Linked DNA regions of Homo sapiens: region 1 is linked to region 2. The links come from fine-mapping of genetic effects on gene expression. A gene starts in region 2. The other region holds a variant in brackets. All regions are shown on one strand. Distances are between the middles of the regions. Region 1 holds the start of PRSS21 (serine protease 21). Region 2 holds the start of PRSS33 (serine protease 33).

Region 1 (14,145 bases), 33 kb before region 2:
ATCTTTCATGTAATTAACCTTCTACTAGTGCAAGTGTTGAAAAGAGAATACACTATTCCCAAGTTTCAAGTTGAGGGAGGCGGGATTCCCGGGTTCTGGTTTCTCCAGCCTACCCTGGTGCGTGTGTTGCTCCTTGGCGTCTGGGTCAGCTCAGGCTGCTGTAACACAAATCCCACGCCGTGGGCGGCTGGTAGATGATAGAGGTTTGTTTCTCACAGCTCTGGAGGCTGGAAGTCCAGGATCAAGGTGCTGAGCGATGCGGCTGCTGGTGAGGGCTCCTTCCTGGCGAGCAGACCCCCATCTTCTCACTGTGTCCTCTTATCTGGGGAGGGGCGAAGAGGAGAGCCCTGGTCTCCTTTTCTTATAAGGGCCTTAGCCCATCACTGGAGGTCCTGTGCTCATGACCTCATCTAAACCTAATTACTTTCAAAGGTCCCACCTCTTGACACATATGCTTAGAGCTTCCACATATGTACTTTGGGGAGACAAAGACAGCCACAGCACCTGGTTAGCATCCCCCTGACTCTCTCCTGAGGCAGGCACCTGCTTAGAACCTGGGGCTCGCCCCACTCTCCTGACCTCCTCTCCTGGGGGCCAGGAAGTGCCCCACGGGGGCCGACCCTGTCCACCTCCGTGGCTGTGCTCCAGCTGACTTGCTCGGGCCCTGTCCTGTGAATGGAGGAAGGATGTTGGGCTCAGCCTTCGCACCTGCCCCGGTAGATTCCATGATAAGGGACCTGAGCGGCCTGGCCCGGCGCCACACTCCGACCCTGTTCCTGACTGCACCTCCCGCAGCCACTCCCAGCCTCGGTTTCTCTATCGGTAGATAAGCCTCTAGCACACCTCAGCACCTGAGGCTGTTGGGAGGGAGGAGCGAGACAATGTGTGCGGCCGCCAGCCGTCTGCTGGGGGGAAACGAGTCCGTCTTATTAAGGTGATACGGTTTGGCTGTGTCCCCGCCCAAATCTCATCTTAAATTGTAGTTCCCATCATTCCCACATGTTGTGGGAGGGACCTGGTGGGAGGTAATTGAGTCGTGGGCAGTGAGTTACCCCTATGCTGCTGTTCTCGTGATAGAGAGTGAATTCTCACGAGATCTGATGGTTTTATACAGAGATTTCCCCCCTTTTGCTTGGCACTTCTCCTTGCTGCCACCATGTGAAGAAGGATGTGTTTGCTTCCCTTTCTGCCCTAATAGTAAGTTTCCTGAGGCCTCCCCAGCCACGCTGAACTGTGAGTCAATTAAACCTCTTTCCTTTCTAAAATACCCAATCTCAGGTATGTCTTTATTAGCAGCGTGAGAATGGACTAATACATGAGGACCGGCCCGGACGAGGCCCTCGATGGTGTCAGGCACTGGAACAGCCTCAGACTGGTTTGAGTCAGTTGCTCATCTCCTTCCCAAGAGTGGTTGAGTCCTCCCTGGGAGGCTGCAGAGGGAGTAGCCCTGTGGGGGGCGTCGCTGGTCCGGGAGGCCAGTTCCTGACTGCAGCCCCCACAGCAAGCCATGTGGAGGGCCTGGAATTTTCCAGACTCGAGGATGGACGATCCAGATGGACCAAGATGGCAGAAGCTGAGGATGGGCCCTGGGGAGCTGTCCTCCAAGGACAAAGTCAACAGACATTTCCCCTACATTTACCACCCAAATTCAGACATACTGGAGAGTAAAAGGTGACAGTGACACCCACGCAATCCCTGCCTCTCCAGTCCTCAGCATTCTCCTGTGTGGGTGTCACTGCATTTGTCCATGTCCCGGACCCTCCGTCCACTCATTGGTTCATCTTCTTTCCTCAGACGTCAGGTGCAGACCTCAGTTCACTTACCCTCAGGGACTTCCACATGCGTATCGTTAACTAGACTTTTGGGGGGTTGGGCTTTTCCCAGTTTGAAGCACAATTTGCATACAACGAAATCACAAATCTCGAAGTGTATATTCACAGGTTTAAAAAATATTTATGGATTCCGGACCACCTGGCTGGGCTGGGGCATCTGGCAGGAGGTCTGGGGCTAACTGCCCACGTGAGACCAGCCTGGACAACAAAGTGAGAACTTGTCTCTACAAAAAATAACTTTAAACAACTTAGCTGGTGGTGGTAGTGTGGGCCTGTAGACCCAGCTACTCAGAAGACTGAGGTGGAAGGAGCCCAGGACTTCAAAGTTGCAGTGAGCTAGGATCACGTCACTGCACTGGCTCCAGTCTAGGTGCCAAAGCGAGACCCTATCTCTTAAAAAAACAAAAGCAAACAAACAAACAAACGAAAAGCAAACAAAAAACTAGGCCAGGTATGGTGGTTCACGCCTGTAATCCTAGCACTTTGGGAGGCCGAGGCGGGTGGATCGAGAGGTCAGGAGTTTGAGACCAGCCTGGCCAACATAGTGAAACCCCGTCTCTACTAAAAATTACAAAAGTAGCTGGGCATGATGGCACTCCCAGCTACTCAGGAGGCTGAGGCAGGATAATTGCTTGAACCAGGGAGGCGGAGGTTGCAGTGAGCTGAGATCGTGCCATTGCACTCCAGCCTGGGTGACAGAGTGAGACTCTGTCTCAAAAAAAAAAAAAAAAAAAAAAAAGGATGACAGGCAAACTGGCTGAAAGCTATTGTAGCCATTAAGTAGCATTTCATGACTGGGTTGAAATAAAGCAGAAAACAGGGCCAACTCTATAAAAGGGACCACTAGTACAATTTGAACAAGTTGTGTTAGCGATATCGCCAAAGTTACCCACTAGGTGGAGTGAAGCATGTTTTTAGGTCCAGTTCTGTTAAGTTACCCAAAGCAGTTACTGGCTGTAAAATTTTAATTACACATTATCCTGTCAAGGGAGAAAGGTGCGCATTAAGAGAGGTAAGTGGACCACCATGATACGGAATCTCGTTTTGATGGTCTTGGGAAAAGCTGCAGTATGAAGCCGGCAATTTTGCAGTTAAAATGTCTCTGGTTATGGCCTTGGATGGTTGGTGAACTCTGTGCGGTCCACACATCAGGCACAATACTTGTCCCTTGATATTTATGTTAAGTTGTTTTGTTTTAGCTCGCAGGGCATTTATGAAAGAGCAGCTTCCAGTTTTAATAATTCCGTAGGAGAAAACTGGATTGGAGGAACTTAGAATTTAGGGTCCAATATAGTCTACAGGTAGATGATAAAACTGATCTATAAACAATTTAAATATGACATTCCAAAGCCTTCGTAATGTTACAGGATCTCTGGGGTGTTGTTTTTCTGGCTGGAAATCTGTGGCTGTTGGCGCCTTGGCCCGAGTTTTGCCCGTTTCCACTGAGGAAAAGGAGTCATCTCGTATGTCCACTGTCCAGAATCTCCACTCTTCCACCCCTTTGCTGATTTAAGTAAGAGTGATGACCTGCTCCCTGCAGGCACTGAGGAATACATCCATGCAAGGATTTAACAGAGAAATGACAGGAAAACCCTTAGCACTGTCTAAGCGATCACTAAGGATTACAATAAAAAGCAACTAGTGAAGGCATTTAAGAGGAAATTTCCCTGCAATGGGACGGTAATTGAGCATCCAGAATATGGAGAAGTCATTCAGCTACAGGGTGACCAGCGCAAGAACATATGCCAGTTCCTTGTAGAGGTGGGACTGGCTAAGGACGATCTGCTGATGGTTCAAGGGTTTTAACTACTTGTGGCTCACTGAAACTTAAGTGAGGATTTCCCTGTAATGAGTAGAATTTCCCTTCTTTCCCTTGTTACAAGTTTTAAAACCTCACAGTTTGTCTAATTTAACCATTTGAGGTCTGCTTTTAACTTGAACTAGTGTAATTCCTTTATGCAATAAACTGCAAAAATAAAAATAAAAAAATAAAAACATCGCTAAGGGAGGACCATGATTTTCGAACTTGGAGCCAGCTGGAGTCCCACAAGGGGAACCATTATTGCCTACTTTCTGGGTGCTCAGAGCCTCACCTCGGGGCTGCCCCAGCTCTGAGGCATCCCGTGCCCCAGAACTACTCTCAACATGGTGGGGGGAGTGGTCAAGAGAGAAACGCCCACCGTGGTGTCCTTGTCCTCAGTGGGCCAACGCTGAGGCCCCCACAGGATTGCACCCCAGTTGCCTAGAATGGTACCCTCTATGTTTGTGTAAGCTCATTGGTGTTCCTTCCTTCCCTGCCTCGGTTTCCCCATTTCCTGCAATCCCCTCCCAGATAAACTACCTGCACCTATGTCCTGGTCCTAGGTCAGCCTTGGGGGAACCATAGTAAGATCAGGATGTCTGGCGTTTCTGTGCCGGATCCTTGTGGGGTGAGGGATGTCAGGATTGTTTCCTCCAATGCACACACCCCCAATCCAGGCTTCCCAGCTCCTGGCACCCTGGAACTACTCCTGTTCCATTGCTGAGCATGATGTGCGTCTATAATTTCAGCTACTCAGGAGGGTGAGGCGGGAGGATCGAGACCACCCTAGGCGTTCAAGACCAGCCTGGGCAACACACAATTCTCTTTCTGATCGAAATAACCAGATGGTTCTATGGTGCAGAACAGATGTGGGTGTGAGCCAGGGGCACAGACAGGCTGTCTGCACAAGAGAGAATGAGCTGTCCATGAAGCCACTGCTTTTGAAGAATGCCCTGCAAGGCATCAACTGGAATGTGTTTATTACCAAACAAGACAGAAGAGAACCAGGGCCTGACTTGGCAGTGGCCCCAGGCTGCATGGGCTCAGGTAGGCTCAGACCGGCCCCAGGAGTGGGAGAGCCCAGAGAAGAGGGAAAAAGAGTAGCGGCCAGGAGGGGTCTGGCTGGGACATGCCACTCTGGGCCATCAGCTTCTGGATCCACTCAAAGTGGTGGCTGATATTGGTGTAGACACCGGGCCGATTGGGCCGACCACAGCCCACTCCCCAGCTCACGACTCCAATCTGATACCACAGTCCATTCTTGTTACAGGCCAAGGGTCCACCTGAGTCACCCTGGGGAGCAGCGGGGCTGAGGTCAGCCTGGGGCAGAGTGAGTGGGGCAGGGGAGGGGCTGAGAGTGGGAAGGGCTATGGGGCTGGGTAGACTGGGTGCACATCCTCCTCCTCCCCCTGGCAGCAGCCAAGCCTCCGTTTCTGCATCTGCAGAGTGGGGCAACAGTCTCCACCTCCCGGGGTTGGCATGAGGGTCAAATAAGGCACAGGGACACAGGATGCTTTCCTGGGCTGGGAGTGGTGGCAAGGACACTCACGAAGCAGGCATCCTTCCCGCCTTGGGCATTGCCAGCACAAACCATGTCTCCAAAGATGTCCTTGCGGAAACTGTACTTGAGGAAGAGGTGGTTGCACATAGAGTTGTTTATGATGGCGACCTGAACTTCCTGGAGGGTGTGGGGAGATGGCAGTGCTGTG[C/T]GGACGATAGTGGGAAGGAGAGAGACAGCAACCTGAGGCCCCTCTATGGAGGGATGGCATAGGCTGCGGGGGTGGGGGCCCTGGGGCACCCACTGTGCCTGGCAGGTTCATCTCCATTACCCCCAGCTCCAACCCAGACCCCAGCACAACAGAGGCCCTCAGCAGCATCACAGAAGGCCCCGGGGAGGGACAGGCTGTCAGAGCTCCCCCAGCCGCACTTTCCCTATCTGTAGAATGGCAACAATGGCCCTGCCTGCAGCCATGGAGAGATTCCTCAGCCAAAAGGAGCCGAGGGAGGGGCGAAGGCAGCTGAGACGGTGTTCAGATGAGCATCCAAAGCCAGACCTGGGGGAGGGGCAGCCTGGCTGCAGCCCTGGCCTCAGTAGCAGCTGGGCGCTTTCCAGGCCTGGACACAAGCTTGTTGCAGCACTCTTAGGGACCCCCAGCACCCCTGGGAGGCGGCAGTCATCAGGACCTACTCCCAGATAAGGAGAGTCAGGGGGATATTGCCCCGCTGACCCCCAGCAAGGCACTGGGGAAGTTTCAGAGCCTGACAGGAGCCCACACCTGTCCAATTCCTGCCTCAGAGTGCCAGCCAGCACCTTGTCCTGCAGAGGATGACAAAAGACAATGAGACCCAACCTGCAGGCAGCGCTTCCCGTCAGCGGGGCCTCTCCTAAGCCCTCGGGACTAACAACCTGGGAACTAGCCTCTGATGTGGCACCATCATTCCCCTATTTCACAGGGGAGGAAACTGAGGCACTGTAAGATGAACACCTTTGCCCAAGGCCTCCCAGCCCGCGCAGGGCACAGCAAAGGTGCACACCAGGCAGGGGGCTCCAGAAGTGCCTGTCCCCTGCCTCCCCGGCACTGTGAATTGAGGCACAGCCTGGGGTTGGTGTGACCTGTCTACCCTGGGCTGGGGAGAGAGGGTGGCAGAGGCAGCCTGGCCGTGCCCCTGGCTCATATCCACTCGTGTTTGCAGCAAGGGTCCTTCTCAGGGAAGGCAAAGGATCCCTCCTCCAGAGGGAGGCGGCTCCAGTGCTGAGTTCCCCACTCCCAACTGCCGGGGTGTGACTTGGGGACATCCCTTACCCTCTCTAAGGCAAGGGGCCCTGACTTCTCCATTTACTAGTTCTTGGCAATTTCCATAACCCTCTCAGTTTTCTCATCTGTAAGATGGGTATAAGAACGTTACCAACTTCATTCCTAGGTGAGCTCCAGCAGGAGGAGAGGCCGCGCCTGGCTCACTGCTGGGCCCCCATGTCTAGAACAGTGCCAGGCACACAGCGTGTGCTCAAGGAACCACGTTTGTTATTGTTACTACTGTTGTGGGATGATGCAGGGACGGGCCAGACAGGGGAGCAGAGGGAAGGGATTCCTGATACAGGGAACACGCCCAGTCTGGGGCTGCCGGGGCTCCTCCGGATGCTGGGCCCACTTCTTTCAGGGCATGTGTGTTGGGGGACACGCAGGTGCCAGGGCAGGCCCACCAGAGGAACCCCCAGAGGGGTTTCCGTGGGAGCTGCGGTTGAGCATGGCTTGGAAGTTTCTGGGGAGAGGAATGGGCTCAGTGCTGCAGGAGAATCGGCCAGAGCTAGGGTGGGTGTGGGAGGCATGGAGAGGCAGCCCAGGAGCCTGATGCCTGGGGCATTGGTGAGCACTGGGGGAGGTGGAAAGATGCAGGAATAAATCCAAGTATGAGGTTTATGTCGCCAAGCCCTCCAGAACCCCTCCACCACCGCACCACCCACAGGCCTGCGCCAAACTGGCCTCCCTCTCACACTCTCCTTCTGGCCCCCACAGCCCCTGGAAGGGAGAGAACTGGGTGTTTGGTCCCTGCCCTGGCAGGTGAGGAGAGACTGCAAGCAAGAGGGGCATAGCCTGCACCCCCAGACCAAGCAGGGGGCTATTGTGCCTATGCAGGGGAACAGGTGAACAAAGACAGTTCCTCCCTGACCCGCCTGTCCCCAGCCTCACCCTCATCCTCTTTGATGTACCCCCAGCCAGTCACCCAGCAGTCTGTCCGGTTCTCAAACTCAAATGTGGAGGCCTGGAGACAGATGGGCTGGATGTGTTTAGTGTAGGTGACAGGTGCAGACAGCTTCACCAAGGCAATGTCATAGGGTGAATTCCCCAGGTAGCGAGGGCTCAGATAGATATTCGATACGAAGTAACGGGTGTAGTAGGCCTGCAGGCTCCAGAAGGATGGCATGGAAGTCAGCTGGCCAAACTGGACCATCCACCCGGAGGGATCACTAAGGTCACTATAGCTGGCAGAAGAGAAGAGAGCAGTCAGGGGCCCTGGATGGAGGGCTGGCTACCTGAGCACAACTGGGGTCCAGTGCAGGAGGGGAAACTGTGGTGTTGCTGCTACTTGCTAACACCCAGGGTCCCCTGCAGAAATGAAGGAGCCCAGACAGACCACAACCAAAGTCCTAGGACCTGCTCCTGCAGCAGAAGGGTGGGGTCTTGTCACCTCCCAGAGCTGTCCCAAGGAGCCTTGCATTGAGCCAAGGCCTCCAGGGGCACCCCCATGCAGCCCAAGGAGGAATGGGGAGATGCACCACGCCAATGTGGGATTGGCAGGATGGAGTCCACACAGCGGCCCGGGGGTGCTGGCCTTGGCTCAGTGCCCCACACTGTACCGCACCGTCCACCAGGAGGGGGGATGAGGGTGGGATGGTCAGTGGTGAACTTTGGGTTGAAAGAAAAAGGGAGAGAATACCCAAAAGTGTGTGGAAATGTTCTGGAAGAACATTCTGGAATAACCTGAACAGGGTTCCCTCCAGGAGACCCAAAGGGAACTGGAGTGGGTGTAACCGGCTGCAGCACAGCCTGGGGCTCAGGAGAACACCAGGCCGCATCCACGCACAACTTTCACGCCCAAGTCTGGCATCAGACCAGAGGTAAAGTTCGGTGGCACTCCCTCCAGCCCTGTTCCTGCCCGTCCCCGCACCCCTCCGTTCGCACCCCCACTCACGTTTCAAAGCAGTGCGCCGCCGTGAGTGCCCAGCGGTGGCTGAGCAGGCTCACTCCGCATACGTGGGAATCCCACAGGCGCAGGCTCCCCTGCCACGGCCAACGCCCGAGTTCGGCGTCCTCTCCACCCACGATGCGCGACGTGATGACCCGTCGGCCGCATGGTCCTCGGATGGTCAGAGGAACTGCTGAGCCGCGGGAGGCAGCCCCCCAAGCCCGACCTCTCCCTTTCTCCCCTTCAACCCCGTCCGGGAAAGCACGTTTTTGCCCACCCAGGGTCCCCTCGCGTGTGTGCAGCAGGAAGTAGGTGACACTGGAGATCCTCCCACGTGCTCTGCAGGGCCCGCCCATCCCCCTCCAGCGTCCGTTAGTTACTTTCCACGCCAACAGAGTTCTCGATCCCGGGGGCGGGGGCGAGAGAGCAGTAAAGGCCCCCCTCTACCCCCTCACCGCCCCCCGTCCACCTCGGCCCAACGGCCCTGGCAGGAATCGCGCGTCCTGGGCGCCCTACCTGATAACGGCGCCGCCTCCTGCGACTCTGCGGGAGACAAGAAGTGACTCCCCGCGGCCTCCACCTCCCGTCCTCCCCACCGCTCCCCCGCCTCCCCATCCCGCCAGCAGCGCCCCGAGCTCACCCGGCTTCCTGAGTCCAGCCCGAGCCAGCAGCAGCGCCAGCAGCAGCGCCCCGCGCGCGCCCATGGCCTCCTCTCCCGCGGCCTGACGCCCCCTCTGCCTCCTCTCGCGCCGGGCCCGGGGCGCCCCCTGGGGGCGGGGCGGGGTGGGAGCTCTGCCCTCTACTCCCAGCTTCACCCTCCTGGGCCCAAGGGCTGTTTGGGGCCTCTCATGCCTGGCAGCGCCCTGGCTTTCAGCCCCTAGGGGCGGGTCTTCAACCACACTTCTTGATGTGGCCCAGACCCGGTGGACCCCACAGTCCCTTTCTTGTCTGCAGCCCAGGGGTCCCGGCTGCCCTCTTGGTGACCCCGTCCTCCACCTACAACCTCCTCCAGCACCAAGGGCCTGGCCCTGAGCCAGGAGTCCCCTTAAAGCCTGGGGACCCCCTGAAGGCCGGGTGGGGCCTAGAGGCATGGCTGCTCCTTCATGGGACCTTCTTGGGAAAACAGTGGTCCTCGGCCCGTTCCACCCAGAATGGGGATCTCCCCAAGTCTCTGCCCAGGCTGTCCCCACTGCGGGCTCCCGCTGGGCTCTCTTCACTTCTCTGGAACAATTTTTTTTTTTTTTGAGATGGAGTTTCGCTCTTGTCGCCCAGGCTGGAGTGCATTGGCGTGATCCCAGCTCACTGCAACCTCCACCTCCTGGGTTCAAGCGATTCTCCTGCCTCAGCCTCCCAAGTAGCTGGGGTTACAGGCGCGCGCCAGCACACCTGGCTCATTTTTGTATTTTTAGTACAGACGGGGTTTCGCCATGTTAACCAGGCTGGTCTCCAACTCCTGACCTCAGGTAATCCGCCCACCTCGGCCTCTCAAAGTGCTGGGATTACAGGCATGAGCCACCGCGCCCAGCTGCAATTCCACTTCTGAGCATACACCCAAAAGAACTGAAAGGAAGGTCTTCAAGAGATATTTGTTTTTGGTTTTTTGGGGGGATTTAGTTTTGTTTGTTTTTGAGATGGAGTCTTGCTCCATCGCTCAGGCTGGAGTGCAGTGGTGCGATCTTGGCTCACTGCAACATCTGCCTCCTGGGTTCAAGTGATTCTCCTGTCTCAGCCTCCAGAGTAGCTGGGATTAGAGGCACCTGCCACCATGCTTAGCTAATTTTTGTATTTTTAGTAGAGATGGGGTTTCGCCATGTTGGCCAGGCTGGTCTTGAACTTCTGACCTCAGGTGATCTGCCCTCTGCGGCCTCCCAAAGTGCCAGGGTGAAGGTGTGAGCCACCCCACCCAGCCTTCAAGAGATATTTGTATACCCATGTTCATAGCAGGATTATTCACAGTAGCTGACATGAAAGCAACCCAAGAATCCATTGACCACTGAACAGATCAGTGAAAATGGGAATGTACAACCAGAACCTGGGAATCCCGCCTCCCTCAACTTGAAACTTGGGAATAGCGTATTCTACTTTCAACACTTGCACTAGTGGAAGGTTAATTACATGAAAGATTAGGCAAAATGTGTGGTTAGGCGTTCTGGTTTTCCAATAAAAGTATTAAGTTTCTTTGGGGAAAGTACAGATAAAATGCTTAGCACAGAGCATGGTACCAACGGGAACTCAATGAGGGCGCAGCGGGTGTGTGGGAGCTTCGGGTTTCAGGAGCACAAGGCTGCGGTGCCTTCCCTCAGGGCCTCCTTCCCCAGCAGCAGCTGCTCAAGGACAAGTCACATGCACAGCCTGGCCTTGGCCTGCTGGGTTGGGGCAAAGGTCCCTGGGCTTCTGATCCTGCCCCTCTCCCAGCCAGCAGGACGTTCCCTCTGGTTCCTGAGTCCCAGGGATCCGCTGAGGCCCCTAGGAGGTGTCAGCTCCTGGTTTTGCCCAGGGTCTCAGTCAGGCCAGTCCTACCCGGAGATCTGAGCCAGGGACTCAGGTTCTTGCCTCCAGTGAGGCTGGGGGCTTCCCGCAGAGGCCAAGCCTGGCCCGGGGGCTGCAGGGAGGCCCTGGCTGCTGCATGGGCTGCAGATGGAGACTCTCTTGTCTGCTGTGCCTCAGGCTGCAGAGTCACAGAGGGGTCTTCCCAAGCCCCACACCTGGAGGGCAGGGAGGACAGGGACTTGTGGTCCTAACCCGACTCCTGACACATAAGGGCCAGCCGGCCCGGAGCCACCTCTGCGGGCAGGAGAAGGCCTCATTGTTCCCTTCTCCTGGCAGAATGAGGACTGGGGCGTGCCCGGGGCAGGAAATAAATGCTCAGTAAATCCCTCTCTTGGGAGCCCTGATCCCAAGGGACAAAGGGCCTGTGTTGAGTCTCCCTGGGCACGGGCTCGGGGCCAGCACTTGGGCCATGGCAGATGGAGGGTGGGAGGAGGGTGCCTCCCACCAGGTGGGCTTCTTCCCCAGGTCAGGCATGCAGGTGAGGAGCGTCCTCGTGTGTGCATGCCCCCTGCGTGCAGGAGAGGCTGGGCGGGTGTGTGTGTCTGGGTGTATGTGTGTGCATGCATCTTCAAGTGCACGTGTGTGAACGACCATGTGTGATCCCCGTTCTCGTGCCATCTGAACATCCCCTCCAGTGTGCATTTGGGTGAGTCCTGGCGCCCCTCTGGCCAGGCTGCTAACTATCCCTTCCACCAAGTCCCCTCAACCTCAGCTGGTGCTTCTGGAGTCCTGGCCCAAGTGACTCTCCTTCTGGGCGCCAAACCCTGTCAGCCTGGAGTTAGAAAGAAGGCCCCTGAACTGCCAGCAAAACATGGAAAGACAGGTCGGGTGCCATGGCTCAAGCCTGTAATCCCAGCACTTTGGGGAGCCGAGGCGGATGGATCACAAGTTCAGGAGTTCGAGACCAGCCTGGCCAACATGGTGAAATCCTGTCTCTACTAAAAGTACAAAAAATAGCTGGGCATGGTGGTGGGCACCTGTAATCTCAGCTACTCTGGAGGCTGAGGCAGGAGAATCATTTGAACCTGGGAGGCAGAGGTTGCGGTGAGCCGAGATCGCACCATTGCACTCCAGCCTGGGTGAGAGGGCGAGAGTCCGTGTTTAAAAAAAAAAAAAAAACAAAAAACAAAACAAAACAAAACATGGAAAGGTGCCCTTAGGCTGGGCTAGCGCGAGAACACAGCCCGCTTTGTGGCACCTCCAAGCTCCTGCCTCTGAGAGCTGTGCTGGCCAAGGGCTTGGCCTCTTCCACCTCCACCTCCCTGAAGGAGGCTCCTCCTGAGAGGGACTCCGCTGCCCACTCCCTGTGCCTGGCCCCTGCTATCCCTGAAAGTCAGAGGAATGCTGGACGGGTGGTGCAGAGGGGTGGGAGCTGGGTGGGTGGTGCAGAGGGATGGGAGCTGGGTGGGTGGTGCAGAAGGGTGGGAGCAGAGGTACAGTGGGGGCCTCATCTTGGCACATCAGTCAGTGGGAGCCCAGCTCTGACCAGCCCCTCCAGGGAGACGGTGCAGGCGTCACAACCAGAGCCAGGTGCCAAAACTAAAGTGAGGCTCTGCTCCCGCCCTGTCAGTCTCTGGCAACTTCTGTTTTGCTTTCTGTCCCTACGCTTTTGGCTGCTCTAAGTACTTCATATGTGTGAAATCACACGGTGTTCGTTTTTTGTGACTGGCTTATTTCACTGAGCACAGTGTCTTCATGGCTCATCCATATCGCTGTATGTGTCACAATTTCCTTCCTTTTTCTTTTTTTCTTTATTTTATTTTATTTTATTTTTTGAGACAGGGTCTCCCTCTATTGGCCAGGCTGGAGGGCAGTGGTGAGATCTTGGCTCTCTGCAGCCTCAGCATCCCAGGCTCAATGTAATCCTCTTACCTCATCCTCCCAAGTAGCTGGGACCACAGGTGCGGGCCACCACACCCAGCTACGTTTTTATTTTTACTTTTATTTTATTTTATTTTTTTTTTTTTTGAGACTAAGTCTCACTGTCGCCCGGGCTAATGTGCAGTGGGGCGATCTCGGCTCGCTGCAGCCTCTGCCTCCCGAGTTCAAGTGATTCTCCTGCCTCAGCCTCCCGAGTAGCTAGGACTATAGGCGTGTGCCACCACGTCCAGCTAATTTTTGTATTTTTAGTAGAGACGGGGTTTCACTATGTTGGCCAGGCTGGTCTCGAACTCCTGACCTTGTGATCCGCCCACCTCGGCCTCCCAAAGTGCTGGGATTACAGGCATGAGCCACCGCGCCCGGCCCATTTTTATTTTAAATTTTTTGTAGAGCAAAATGTTATCCAGGCTGGTCTTGAACTCCTGGCCTCCAGCGATCCTTCTGCCCTGGTCTCTCAAAGTGCTGGAATTACAGGTGCGGGCCACCCATCCATGGCCCCCCTAGTTCTCTTGTCCTCCTTCCCCTCACTAAGACAGCCAGAACAATGAATAAACAATATTTGTTTTTGTTTTTGTTTTTGTTTTTGAGACAGAGTTTTGCTCTTTTTGCCCAGGCTGGAGTGCAATGGCGTGATCTCAACTCACTGCAACCTCCGCCTCCCGGGTTCAAGCAATTCTCCTGCCTCAGCCTCCCAAGTAGCTGGGATTACAGGCACCTACCACCATGCCCCCTTTTTTTTTTTTTTTTTTTTTTTTGTATTTTTAGTAGAGACAGTTTCACCAGGTTGGCCAGGATGGTCTCGATCTCTTGACCTCATGATCTGCCCGCCTTGGCCTCCCAAAGTGCTGGGATTACAGGTGTGAGCCACCGCGCCTGGCCAACAATTAACTTTTAATGAAAATAACTGAGGAAGAGCACCAGAGTGCTTTAGAGGAGTAACAGAAACCTGGTGAGCAGAGAAACTCAGGATGGCCGCATGAAGAACAGAAGGAAACACTGGGCCTGCACCCCAGTCCTCAACCAGGATCAGCTGGGAATGAGGCAAGGAGGTAAGCAGGGGATCCCAGGAGCCCCACCAGCACCTTGGACACCTATAGCCCTCACCACTAGCGTCCCCTGTCCTCACAGGCACTAAGCCCAGGCAAGGGGGCTAACTGAGGCCGCACAGCTGAGCTCCCTGCAGAGGAGCCCACAGTGAGCCCATTTCCTGTGGTCACGTGGCTACCGCACTGCGCCAGCGGTGAATTGGAACTACAGCCAGAGCATATCTTGCCCTGGGATTGAGTAGCCACAGTTGCCCTTTATCCCTGAGACTAATCCACCACTGAACAACCTCAGCCTGGTGGCTTCACACCCCTAAACTGAGCCGTGAGCAGCGGTCACACCCTTGCTCCT
Region 2 (14,005 bases):
GTGTTAGCCAGGATGGCCTCAATCTCCTGACCTCGAGATCCACCTGCCTGGGCCTCCCAAAGTGCTGAGATTACAGGCGTGAGCCACCGTGCCCAGCCTATTATTATCATTATTATTATGATGATTTGAGATGGAGTTTCGCTCCTGTCGCCCAGGCTGGACTGCAATGTTACCATCTCGGCTCACTGCAAACTCCACCTCCAGGTTCAAGCGATTCTCCTGCCTCAGCCTCCTGAGTAGCTGGGACTGATGGGCGCCACCACACCCAGCTAATTTTTGTATTTTTAGTAGAGATGGGGTTTCACCATATTGGCCAGGCTGGTCAGGAACTTCTGACAGAATATTATTTACCCTTAAAAAAGAATGAAATTCTTTCATATGCTACAACGCGGATGGATCTTGAGGACCTTATGCTAAGTGAAATAAGCTAGTTACAGAACAAAAAATACTGCAAAATTCCACTTATATGAGGTATTTAAAGTAACGAACTCATCAAAGCAGCAAGTAAAATGGTGGTTGCCAGGAGCTGGGGGAGAGGGACACACAGAGCTATTGTTCAAGGAAGAGAGTTTCAGTCAAGCAAGATGAAAATGCTCTAGAGATCTCTTTACGGCAATCTGCATATAGTTGACAATACTATACCATCCACTTAAAAATTAAGAGGGTATATTTGTTTATTTTGTGTGTGTGTGTTTTTGTTTTTTTTTTTTTTGAGACGGAGTCTCACTCTGTCACCCAGGCTGAAGTGCATTGGTGCGATCTCGGCTCACTGCAACCTCTGCCTCCCCAGTTCAAGCGATTCTCTTGCCTCAGCCTCCCAAGTAGCTGGGATTACAGGCGCACGCCACCACACCTGGCTAATTTTTTGTATTTTTAGTACAGACAGGGTTTCGCCATGTTGGCCAGGCTGATCTTGAACTCCTGACCTCAGGTGATCCACCTTCCTCAGCCTCCCAAAGTGCTGGGATTGCAGGTGTGAGCCACCGCACCCGGCCAAGATGGTATATTTGTATTGTGTGTTTTTTACCACTAAAAAAAAAAGAAAAAAAAAGAGTGGTGCTGAAGGGGAGGTGGGTCTACCTGAGGGTCTGTGCCTCAGTTTCTCAACATAGGAGCTGAGACAGGGGTTGGGTCTGGGGGCTCTTTCCCTCCTCTCCCAAAGATCCGATGTCCAATATTTAACCAGTTGCAGACCCTCCCCTGAAAAAAGCCCATTTCGCCGTGAGAATCCATTTCTTTAACCCAAGCCCTCAGGTGTCCTCAGATCTCCAACCTCCCCCTTCACCCCAAATTGCAACAGGCAGAGACCCAGCTCCCGCTGAACAGGCAGAGACCCAGCTCCCGCTGAACAGGCAGAGATCCAGCTCCCGCTGAACAGGGAGAGACACAGCTCCCGCTGAAGAGGCAGAGACCCAGCTCCCACTGAACAGGGAGTCCATCCTCCTAGCTGGCTTCCCTCCCAGTGCTTGGCCAAGTCCCCCGGGATGGCTGCATATTCTGAGGGTCCATTGTCACTCTCATACTGGTCCAGGTCTCCAGCCGCACCCAACCATGACAGAGAGGGACACTGCCCACCTGGCCTTGTCCCCACTATGCCCTCTAAGGGCAAGCCGACCTGGTATAGCAGAAGATTCTGGAGGCTCAGGGAGGGTGGGAGTGTACTTCTTTTATTCTTGCAGGACTTTCCTAGTATTTGGCAAGTGCTGGTCACTGTGCCAAGCTCTGCATGGTCAACCCCATTAATCTTTACCACAACCTACCAGGTGGATTTTGCAGATGAGGAAAGCAGGGTAGGTGAGGCTTCAACAGCTCTCCCAAGGACTCAGAGCTGGAGACCGGGGCGCCAAAGCCCAGTTGCAGAGAGCGGGTCTTGAGGGTGGTCCTAAAACGGGGACAGCAGAGGTCAGGCCTGAAGACCACCCTCTGTCTACGTTGCATCCAGATGCTGGGTCTGTGTCCCCACCAGCCCCCTCCTCTGTGTCCCTCAGCCTCATCCCCAGTCTGCTGCCCTGCTCAGCCTTGGCCACTTATTCCCAAATCCTTAGTGCCAGCTCTGTGCTGGGCACTGTCCTGCCCACTGGAGAATGTTATGCACTGAAATGTTTGTGTCCCCTCCAAAATTCATATGTCAAAGCCTTACTCACTGTTGTGACTGTATTTGCCCTTATGGAAGTAATTAAGGTTAAATGAGATCACAAGAGTAGGACCCTGCTGGGCACAGTGGCTCACGCCTATAATCCCGGCACTTTGGGAGGCCAAGGCGGGTGGATCGCCTGAGGTCAGGAGTTCAAGACCAGCCTGACCAACATGGAGAAACCTTGTCTCTACTAAAAGTACAAAATTAGCTGGGCGTGGTGGCGCATGCCTGTAATCCCAGCTACTCGGGAGGCTGAGGCAGAAGAATCACTTGAACCCGGGAGGCGGAGGTTGCGGTGAGCCGAGATTGTGCCACTGCACTCCAGCCTGGGCAACAAGACCAAAACCCTGTCTTAAAAAAAAAAAAAAAAAAAGAGTAGGACCCTAATCCAATAGAATTCGTGTCCTTATGAGACGGGATTTGTTCCCTTGACTGTGACCCCCTTCGTGGGCAGGAACTGGAGTGGCTCGTTTCACTCAGCTGTTGTTCGTGGATGGCTAAATATTAACAGTTCAGTGAAGGGTCAGGGTGACAGCATCCTGCACCTGCCCTTTTTGACACCCGAGTTCTTGTTCAGTGTCCAGGAAGAACCAGGTCACATGAGCTATTTGGAAGGTAGTGCATGCGGAGGATTTCAATGGGTGATAAAAGTGGCTGTCAGCAGGATGGGGAATTGATGCGGAAGGAAGGTGATCTTTCCCTGAAGTCGCACCATCTGAAGTTAGCCGCATCTATCCACAGCTAAAGCTCAGCCGCATGTATCCCCAAGGCTCAGCAGCTTGTATCCCTGCTGGTCAGCTGCTTGTGTTGCTCTTTTCTTCCTTTTCTTCTGCCATCTGGTCTGGTTTTTACCGGTACAGGTTAGGGGGCGGGGTGGGCCAAGAAGGCAATCATTTGGGCAGAAAAACAGGGTCAGATGTTTTCACTTAGGGCTGGGGCTCCAGGCTTGAAGGTGGGAGCCCAGCCGTTCTGTGTCACTCATAAGAAGTGACAAGAGTGCAACCTGTCTCTCTCCCTCCCCTCATGCACACAGAGGCCACGGAAGCACACAGCAAGATGCAGGCCACCCAACAAGCCAAGAAAAGTGGCCTTAGAATGAAAACTATGTTACTGGCACCTTGATCTTGGAATTCCCAGGCTCTAGAATCATGAGCAATACATTTATGTTGTTTAAGCCCCCACGGCCGGGCGCAGTGGTTCACGCCTGTAATCCCAGCACTTTGGGAGGCCGAGGCGGGCGGACCATGAGGTCAAGAGATCAAGACCATCCTGGCCAACAAGGTGAAACCGCGTCTCCACTAAAAATACAAAAAAAAAAAAAAAATTAGCCGGGTGTGATGGCGCGCACCTGTAAATCCCTGCTACTCAGGAGGCTGAGGCAGGAGAATAGCTTGAACCCGGGAGGTGGAGGTTGCAGTGAGCCGAGATCACGCCACCGCACTCCAGCCTGGAGACAGAGCAAGACTCTGTCTCAGAAAAAAAAAAAGAAAGCCCCTTCGGCTGTGGTTTTTGTTTATGGCAGCCCAAGCGGACTCCTACAGGGACACAGACCCAGACCCTGATGCTGGAGGGGAGACAAGAGGATGTAAATCAAACCTCCTCAAGTCCCTGTCAAAGGACAACTATGGGCTGGCCTCGGTGGCACATGCCTATAACCCCAGCACTTTGGGAGACTACAGCAAGAGGATCTCTTGAGCCCAGGAGTTCGAGAACAAGTTGGGCATCATTGCAAGACCCCATCTCTGGAAAAAAAAATTGCTAGGTGCTGTGGCATGCACCTGTGGTCCCAACTACTTGGGAAGCTGAGGTGGCAGGATCACTTGAGCCCAGAGGTCAAGGACGCAGGGAGTTGTGATTGTACCACTGCACTCCAGCCTGGGTGACAGAGCAAGACCCTGTCTCTCTCTCCCTTTTTATTTTTTTTTGAGACAGAATCTCACTGCGTCGCCCAGGCTGGAGTGCAGTGGCATAATCTCGGCTCACTGCAACTTCCACCTCCCGGGTTCAAGCAATTCCTGTGCCTCAGCCTCCCGAGTAGCTGAGATTGCAGGCGCCCACCATCAGGCCTGGCTAATTTTTGTATTTTTAGTAGAGACGAGGTTTCACCATGTTGGCCAGGCTCGTCTCAAACCCCTGACCTCAAATGAGCCACCCATCTCGGCTTCCCAAAATGCAGGGATTACAGGCATGAGCCACCATGCTTGGCCAAGACCCTGTCTCTTTAAAAAAAAAAAGAAAGAAAAACAAAAAAAAAAAAAAGGAAAAAAGTACAACTATGGCAGGGCTGCAAAGGAGGCAGGAGGAGGTGGCAGAGCAGAAGGCTGAGGGATAAGAGGAGTTCACTATGCAGAGAGGGACTTGAGAGACTTCTAGGCAGCGAACACTGTGTATGAGCCCAAGAGGGAACTACAGGGCCCTGGACCATCCGGGCCCCGGTCCTCCACGGGCCTCGAGAGAAGGGGAGTTCCTGTCCCCTGACCCCAGCATCTTGCTCTGTCTCGGCCACCCCAAACCAAAGACTGCACTGGTCCCCAAGGTCAAGTCTCCCCCTGCCTCTGGTCAAGTAAGGAGTGCCACCAACTTTGAACCAGTCCCTTTCCACCTCCAGCTGCTCCAGACCCCGGATCTGGAAGGGGGCTGGCCATGCTGGGGTCTCTGGGTGGAGCTGTCTGGCCAGGACTTCCGTCTGAGATGGGATTTCTGGACAGAACAATGGAGCGCAGAAGCTCCAGCAACGTGTGCTCTGCAGGGAGCCCAGGTCAGGTTTGGAGAGGAGTTGCCCCGGATCCTGCAGAGCTTCCCCACCTGACTGCCACCCCTCCCAGCACCTACCCGCACCACTGCTCTCCGCCAGCCCCCACTTCTAGTACCTTGGCGCAAGGCAGGCTTCCTTTGAGAAACCCATTGACCCTTTCCTGCCACCTCTGAAGCTCTGCTCAAAGCATCTTTGTTTGAGGCTGGTCCGGTAAAGCCACAGCCCCGCCCCGGCCCTGTTCATTACTCCTTGGCTGAGCCTCGCGCTCTCCTGGCACTTTAAGCCCCCAGGCCCTCCCTCAACCCCAGTCAGCAGAAGGCGCCAGGCTGTGAGGGTGAGAGCAAGCCAGGGGCTGTGGGGGCTGCAGGGGCAGCCAGTGGGTGAGGATGAGGGTGAGGACGAGGAGGGGTGAAGGATGGGGGAGGGGGTGAGGATGAGGGAAGTGGTGAAGATGAGGGAGGGGAGTGAGGAGGAAGGGGGTGAGGATAGAGGAGGGGGTGAGGATGAGGGAGGGGGTGACGATGGGGGGGTGAAGGATGGAGGAGGGGTGATGAGAGAGGAGTGAGGATGAGGGAGGGGGTGAAGGATGAGGGAGGGGGTGAGGATGAGACAGGGGTGAGGATGAGGGAGGGGGTGAGGATGAGGGAGGGGAGTGAGGAGGAGGGGGCTGAGGATGGAGGAGGGGGTGAGGATAGAGGAGGGGTGAGGATGAGGGAGGGGTGAGGATGAGAGAGGGGTGAGGATGAGAGGTGAGGATGAGGGAGGGGGTGAGGATGAGGGAGGGGAGTGAGGAGGAGCAGGGGTGACGATGGAGGACGGGGTGAGGATAGAGGAGGAGGTGAGGATGAGGGAGGGGGTGAGGATGAGAGAGGGATGAGGATGAGGGAAGGGGTGAGGATAAGGGAGGGGAGTGAGGAGGAGGGGGGTGAGGATGGAGGAGGGAGTGAGGATGAGGGAGGGGGTGAGGATGAGGGAGGGGGTGAGGATGGGGGAGGGGGATGAGGGAGGGAGTGAGGATGACCGAGGGGGGTTAGGCTCCAGGGCTTCTGTCGAGACCAAGGATGCCCAAATATCTGGGTGGTGGGTGCTGCATACCTGGGCCCTGGGCAGAACGAAGGGTATACAGCCTGGGCCACCAGGATAAGTCCAGAACCCACCAGGAGCTGAGGACAGACAGAAGGACCACGGAGGGGGTGACGGGCTGGTGTGAGGATTGGTGCCCCTGGGCCAGGACTCTCCTCTCTTCTCCCTGCTGGCTCCAGACCAGAGTCCAAGCCCTAGGCAGTGCCACCCTTACCCAGCCCAGCCTTGAAGACAGAATGAGAGGGGTTTCCTGTCTCCAGGTCCTGCTCCTTCTGGTGCTGGGTGAGTGGGGACAGGGACTGGGGGTGAGGGCCGCAGACACCTTGGCTCCCAGTTCTCCCATCTCACTGCTCCCTGGGCCGGGCTCCCTGGAGCACTCTTGGGCTTTCTAATCTTGATTCCAAGGGCTCAATCCTCTCTGCCACTGACCTTGACCTCACCACACCTCGATGTGCTTGTCGGTGTCATGCTCATACGCCCTTGCCCCCTGCACCTTCACAGTGCTCTGGGGAGGGTTAAATAAGATAACAGACGGCACGAAAGCCTGGCGCAATGTCAGGGCAACATTGTTTCACCCTCCTTCCTCATCTCTGGCCTCCCCTCCAACTCCGTTATTTGACACCAAATCTATAATCTGGTCCCTTCCCTGCTTCCTCCTCCAGGAGCTGCTGGGACTCAGGGAAGGAAGTCTGCAGGTGAGGAAGCCTCGGAGTCCACCCGAGTCAGCCCCTCCTGGACCTCGGCCCCGTGTCTCCCCACCAACACCTGCCTCCCAGGCCCCAGGTCCTCAGCCAACCCTCACCGCCCCTGGTCCTTTTCTAGCCTGCGGGCAGCCCCGCATGTCCAGTCGGATCGTTGGGGGCCGGGATGGCCGGGACGGAGAGTGGCCGTGGCAGGCGAGCATCCAGCATCGTGGGGCACACGTGTGCGGGGGGTCGCTCATCGCCCCCCAGTGGGTGCTGACAGCGGCGCACTGCTTCCCCAGGTCAGCGCTCACCGAGGGCCCAGGCGGGGTGTGCAAGGAAGGCAAGGCCCGCAGAGGACCGGGCGTGGCCTGGCAGAGGCGTTGGGGTCGAGGCGGGCTGGAGGGGGTCGAGGACCCGGTGCTGGAAGTAGTCCCCCGCTCCTGTCCTGCAGGAGGGCACTGCCAGCTGAGTACCGCGTGCGCCTGGGGGCGCTGCGTCTGGGCTCCACCTCGCCCCGCACGCTCTCGGTGCCCGTGCGACGGGTGCTGCTGCCCCCGGACTACTCCGAGGACGGGGCCCGCGGCGACCTGGCACTGCTGCAGCTGCGTCGCCCGGTGCCCCTGAGCGCTCGCGTCCAACCCGTCTGCCTGCCCGTGCCCGGCGCCCGCCCGCCGCCCGGCACACCATGCCGGGTCACCGGCTGGGGCAGCCTCCGCCCAGGAGGTAAGGCAGGAGGGCGGGGCTCCGAGGCATCCGGGAGCCCCCACGTCCTCCTCCATCTGACTGGAAATCCCAGCCCCTCACTGCCCCAATCCAGGACCCAGCGCGGCTTCTAGGGAACAAAACCTCCTCTCACTCAGAGCTCAGCTTCTCCCACTGGCCCCCGCTCCACGCCTTCCTCTCAGAGGTCCCTCCTCTTCCCCCAGTGCCCCTCCCAGAGTGGCGACCGCTACAAGGAGTAAGGGTGCCGCTGCTGGACTCGCGCACCTGCGACGGCCTCTACCACGTGGGCGCGGACGTGCCCCAGGCTGAGCGCATTGTGCTGCCTGGGAGTCTGTGTGCCGGCTACCCCCAGGGCCACAAGGACGCCTGCCAGGTGTGCACCCAGCCTCCCCAGCCTCCGGAGTCCCCTCCCTGTGCCCAGCACCCTCCCTCCCTGAACTCCAGGACCCAGGACATCCCAACTCAGGCTCAGGATCCTGGCCTCCAACCTAGAGGCACCACGCCAGGGGTCTGGAACCCTGAGAACTGAAGTCCTGGGAGGGCTGGGACTTAGGCTCCTCTTTCTCCTGCAGGGTGATTCTGGGGGACCTCTGACCTGCCTGCAGTCTGGGAGCTGGGTCCTGGTGGGCGTGGTGAGCTGGGGCAAGGGTTGTGCCCTGCCCAACCGTCCAGGGGTCTACACCAGTGTGGCCACATATAGCCCCTGGATTCAGGCTCGCGTCAGCTTCTAATGCTAGCCGGTGAGGCTGACCTGGAGCCAGCTGCTGGGGTCCCTCAGCCTCCTGGTTCATCCAGGCACCTGCCTATACCCCACATCCCTTCTGCCTCGAGGCCAAGATGCCTAAAAAAGCTAAAGGCCACCCCACCCCCCACCCACCACCTCCTGCCTCCTCTCCTCTTTGGGGATCACCAGCTCTGACTCCACCAACCCTCATCCAGGAATCTGCCATGAGTCCCAGGGAGTCACACTCCCCACTCCCTTCCTGGCTTGTATTTACTTTTCTTGGCCCTGGCCAGGGCTGGGCGCAAGGCACGCAGTGATGGGCAAACCAATTGCTGCCCATCTGGCCTGTGTGCCCATCTTTTTCTGGAGAAAGTCAGATTCACAGCATGACAGAGATTTGACACCAGGGAGATCCTCCATAGCTGGCTTTGAGGACACGGGGACCACAGCCATGAGCGGCCTCTAAGAGCTGAGAGACAGCCGGCAGGGAATCGGAACCCTCAGACCCACAGCCGCAAGGCACTGGATTCTGGCAGCACCCTGAAGGAGCTGGGAAGTAAGTTCTTCCCCAGCCTCCAGATAAGAGCCCCGCCGGCCAATCCCTTCATTTCAACCTAAAGAGACCCTAAGCAGAGAACCTAGCTGAGCCACTCCTGACCTACAAAGTTGTGACTTAATAAATGTGTGCTTTAAGCTGCTCCATTTGTGCTGACTTGTTATACAGCAATAAAAACTAATATAGATTTTGCCCCACTGTGATGAAGGTGTCCCAGTGGGAAAGGTGGGCTGGCCAGCGCGGCCACCTCCCCACATACTGCAAGAGGCTGGGCACTTGGTATCAGGCCCTCGGCCCAGGAGGGGTCAGGAGTCCCGGGGCAGGCCCAGATTCTGTTCTCATTGTGTCTGGCCACCATTCACTCCCAGGGTGAGCCTGGGGCCCAGGCCACCCTACTGACACCTGCACCCAGACGCCAACAGCTAGCCCACGTGCAGGTCCTTGCCCACCCTTGGGGTCCCCTTCCAGCCTGGTGCCTGGCATCCTGTCCCCTCTCTGCCATGTCCTTGTCTCCAGAGCCAGGACCACCCGTTCCAATAGATAGAGGTCAGTTTCCACAGCTGCAGAAGGAAAAGAAACAAAACCTGGAAAATTCAAAACCTACTCTGGAGCTGACAGGGGCTATCAGCAGAAGGGAAGGGAAGATAAGGGAAGGTAAACTTCAAAGGCGCAGCCCCTTTAGGTCCAGGCACAGGCCTGAGCATCGCCTCCCTCCCCTTTCCTCCTGGGGAGCCAGGGAAGTGGGCTGTACTAGATGGTCACGGCTGGGCCAGGCCAGGTGGGGCAGGGAGGGTGCTCAAGGCTTCTCTGTCCCCCAGGTGGAGAACAGACCATGCTGCAGTACAGCTTGGCCACCACTGGTGTGGTCATCAGGCACCAGGTGCCCAGGACGACAGGGCATGGCTATGGCAGGCGAGCCTGCAAAAGGCTGCAGGCCCAGCTAAGGAGGCAGAAGGGAGTGGAGCCGGGCAGGGAAGGGAGGATCATTAATGAGAAGAAATCACGGCCCCTCGTCAAGCCCTCACCAGACACTGTGCAGAGGGAGGGCTTTATTCCATCAGCTCATTGAATTCCCACAGGAGGCTCCGTGAGGTGGCTTGTCCCCATTTGTCAGATGAGAAAAACAAGTCCCAAAAGTCACACCGCCGGCAAGGTTGGTAGACTGGGACTCCAGCCCAGGTGGTCTGATTCTGGGAAAAGCAGAGGTCCTCCACTCTCTCCACTCCCTCCCACCCCCAAAAGGGCAGCCTCCCCGCACCCGTCCTCTTGGCCCGTTCCCGGCATGATGGCCTGTGGGGCCAGACGAGTGGCAGCTCTTGTCAGCCCCGTGCAACTGACCTCCACAGGATGGGGCCTACTTCCCTCTCCGTAATCTGCACTGATAACACCTGCACTCCCGTGGCTGTTGGGGGTCCAGATGTCGGCCAAGGTGGTCGTTATGCCCGCTGAGTATGTGCACTGTGCCAGGCATGTACATGCTCTCAGCAGACCTCAGAGCCCTTGAAGGAGATACTCTTCTCATCTCACAGAAGGGGAAACAGGCCCAGAGAGGTTAGGTAACTTGGCCACAGGCCCACAGCTGGTAAGTAGTGGAGACAGATTTGAACTCAAATCCCACACTCCTAACAGTTATGTCACATCCCTTATGGGGACAAAAGTAGCTATAAAACACTCTTACAAATAAGGCACATTACTAACGCATGGTCGTGAATAACTACTACGTATTAACACAAAAACAAAAGAAGTAGACCAGGCACAGTGGTTGATGCTTGTAATCCCAGTGTTTTGGTAGACCAAGGCAGGATGATTGCTTGAAGCCAGAAAATCGAGACCAGCCTGGGCAACATAGTGAAACCCCCATCTCTACAAAAAATTACATTAGCCAGGCATGGTGGCCCGTGCCTGCAGTCTCAGTTACTCGGGAGGGTGAGGTGGGATCGCCTGAACTCAGGATTTCAAGGCTGCCATAAAGATCACGCCACTGCACTCCAGCCTGGGCTACAGAGCAAGATCTGTGTGTAGGGAAAATCTCTCTCAAATTGTGTTTTTCCTCTACTCTTGTTGCCAGAAAAGAGGGTCCCAATCCAGACCCCAAGACAGGGTTCCAAGAGAGGGTTCTTGGATCTCACACAGGAAGGAATTCAAGGTGAGCCACAGAGCACAGTGAGAGAAGCAAGTTGATTAGAAAGGACTCCATCACAGAGCAGGCGTGCTCAGAGAGCAGGAGGAAGAACTCAACGTCTTTGGTTAGTGTCTCTGCTTATAAGAAACTACAGGCCGGGCTCAGTGGCTCACGCCTGTAATCCCAGCACTTTGGGAAGCCGAGGAGGGTGGATCACCTGAGGTCAGGAGTTCGAGACCAGGCTGGCCAACATGGTAAAATCCCGTTTCTACTAAAAATACAAAAATTAGCCAGGTGTGGTGGCACGCACCTGTAATCCCAGCTACTCAGGAAGCTGAGACAGGAGAATCACTTGAACTCGGGAGGCGGAGGTTGCAGTGAGCCCAGATCACACCATTGTACTCCAGCCTGGGCAACAGAGTGAGACTTTGTCTCAAAAAAAAAAAAAAAAAAAAAGAGAGAGAGAGAGAAACTACAAGGAGCAGTAAATAAACCTGGAACGTGCAGATATGTGCTCACTAAAGGTCGGGGCTATTGGTGCCATCGGTGACCGTGCATCCTCTGTCTTAGCCTGCTTACTGACACTATCTTAGTAAAGTGGGCTGCATTCTCAGAACGTGTGGACATTCTATGGGCCTTCTGGGAGAAGTCCTGTATGGCCATAAACATTTTGTAATCCTAATTGGTGGCCAGCTTAAGATGTGGCTATTTTAGACTGGGTGTAGGGGCTCATGCCTGTAGTCCCAGCACTTTGGGAGGCTGAGGCAGGAGGATTGCTTGAGCTGTTTGAGACCAGCCTGGGCAACATGGTGGAACCCCATCTCTACAAAAACTACAAAAATTAGCCGGATGTGGTGGTGCATGCCTGTAGTCCCAGTTACTCCAGGGGCTGAGGTGGGAGGATTATTTGAGCCAGTATCAGGCTACTGCACTCTGGTCTGGGTGACAGAAGGAGACCCTGTCTCAAAAACAAAAAGAATGTGGCTATTTTCAGACAGCATGAACCTTATAGATGCCTTGTGAGTGCTTAGCTACACATTTTAAGATGGAGTCACTCTGGTTGTTTTATTAAACCAGAGGCCTGGTAAGCAGAGGTCCCTAACACTCTCACACCAAAACCACAATCATCAACACAGAAGACTCCTGTGACCAACAGTTGTGGGTTTTTTTCCCCCACACACTAAGCACTGGACACCAGCAGGGTGTCCTCAACTCAATTCCAACACTATCTGCCCAGCGCCAGCCTCAGGTCCCACAGGTGGGGGCTCACAGGACTGCCTCCCCATTCCCCAATCGCAAGTTTGGGCTCCGGAACGTCTGACTGACTGGCTTCAGGTTAGCGTTCCCATGACTCTCCTCTTTGGGGTCAATTAATTTGTTAGAGCGATGCACAGAACTCAGAGAAACACCTTCACTGGTTTATTATAAAGGATGTTACAAAGGATCCAGATGAAGCAATGTGCAGGTTGAGGTGCTGGGGAGGGGCCTGGAGCTCCCATTCATCCCTGTGGTGTCACCCTCTGGGGACACACACGAGTTGAACTAACCCTGTCTCCAAACCGTCCTGTAGGGTTTTGTCAGCATTCCTTTCCCAGGGAACAGGGTGGGGCCCTCTCTGGGGAGGGTCTTAAGACTCCCAATCAGAAAGGCCCGGGGAAGATTGGAGTCCTGCTTTGGGGCACGTGAAAGGAGAAGACAGATTGTTTCCCAGGTCTAACACACCCAAAAGACACAAGGGCCTTCCCCATCATAACACAACACCCTGTCTGGGGTGGGGAGTGATGGGAATAAAAGGTAGACAGACGCTGGGCGTGGTGGCTCACGCCTGTAATCTCAGCATTTTGGGAGGCTGAGGCAGGTGGATCACAAGCTCAGGGGTTCGAGACTAGCCTAGCCAACGTGGTGAAACCCCGTCTCTACTAAATATACAAAAAAACAGCCAGGCATGGTGGTGCATGCCTGTAATCCCAGATACTCGGGAGGCTGAGGCAGGAGAATCCAGGAGGCAGAGGCTGCAGTGAGCCAAGATCACGCCATTGCACTCCAGCCTGGGAGACAGGGTAAGACTCCGTCTCAAAAAAAAACAAAAGGTAGATGGGAGGGAGCAGAAGACAGGCTGCAAGGCGGATTCTCCGAGTGAAATCTGTGAGGCGGAGAGGTGAAGGCCAGTTGAAGAGAGGAGCCCAGGAGGACATTCCCGTGTGGGTAGCAGGCGCAGCCAGCCAGCTCCTCTCCACCACTGGACGCTCCCATTCCTTGTAAAGGCCCTTAAGGAGAACCTGGACCCCACAAGACCACACTTCCAAAAGTGGAGACCCCAGGCTAGGCCAGCGAGTGGCCCTGCTCCGGGAAAATCCCTCCTGACCCCATTCCCACCACAGGAGGTATCGCTGCACTGAATGATACGATGGCCTGCCATCTCCTCGTGTAGTTATCCCACAGGGAGGACAGCGTCGTGGGGTGTGTGGAGACTCCCTCTAGGGGCAAGGACTCGTGCTGGGTCCAGGTGACCTCTGACAGCAGACAGACACCACTGACTGCGCCAGCTGGGGAACTGCGCCACTGCTCACTGAGCATCAGCACGTGAAGGCAACTGTTGTTGTATTTATGAGCTGATGCGCGGTGAGGGCAGGCACACTCCCCAACCTCCCAAGGGCTCCACACTGTGTATCCCCGCTTCATGGATGGGAACACCCAGGTGGAGGCCCCGGGCTTTGCCGGTAGGAGCTGGGGTTTGAACCCAGTGATATGCTCTCTGGAGGACAGGCACCACCCTTAAGAGGATGGTGACTCCTGGTTTCTGGTGGACATCCTGAGCTGGGGCATCAGCTGTGACGGCCCCCACAAACGAGGTGTCCACCCCTGGTCTCTGCAGATGAAGCCTGGATGGAGTATGGATCCAGGCGTCTCCCTGTGGAGACGGCCCCTCCTGTACCTACACACCCCTTGACTTCTGCGTGGCCTGCTGGGCTACCTGAGAACTTCCTGGCCCCCACTGTCCACACTCTTCCTTCGCTCTCCCTCCACAGAAGCACAGGATTTAAAGTTGCCAGTTCTATGTAGGTAAAGACACTGGGATTAATTAATTGGAGACAGAGTCTCACTCTGTCGCCAGGCGATGTGCAGTGGCGCGATCTCGGCGCACTGCAACCTGCGCCTCCGGGTTCAAGCAATCCTCCTGGCTCAGCCTCTCGAGCAGCTGGGACCACAGGCGTGCGC

What was found.
Region 1: its variant is fine-mapped to the expression of PRSS33 in whole blood (TOPMed, PIP above 0.99).

Annotation. Positions count from the first base shown.
Region 1 is chr16:2,812,147-2,826,291 of GRCh38, reverse strand. PRSS21 (serine protease 21) reads right to left here and starts at 9,055. Exons shown (of 6, transcript NM_006799.4): 1 at 8,960-9,055; 2 at 8,836-8,862; 3 at 8,326-8,491; 4 at 7,323-7,615; 5 at 5,183-5,337; 6 at 4,573-4,926. The coding sequence starts at 9,023. The coding sequence ends at 4,687. It also overlaps the pseudogene EIF1P4. RefSeq lists enhancers at 5,259-5,758, 5,759-6,260, 10,853-11,353, 13,496-14,145 and silencers at 8,738-8,797, 8,908-9,187. The variant C/T (reference allele first, on the strand shown) is at 5,343.
Region 2 is chr16:2,778,754-2,792,758 of GRCh38, reverse strand. PRSS33 (serine protease 33) reads left to right here and starts at 5,199. Exons shown (of 7, transcript NM_152891.3): 1 at 5,199-5,226; 2 at 6,155-6,257; 3 at 6,638-6,670; 4 at 6,798-6,960; 5 at 7,113-7,384; 6 at 7,588-7,757; 7 at 7,957-8,806. The coding sequence starts at 6,212. The coding sequence ends at 8,115. RefSeq lists enhancers at 12,633-13,566, 13,567-14,005.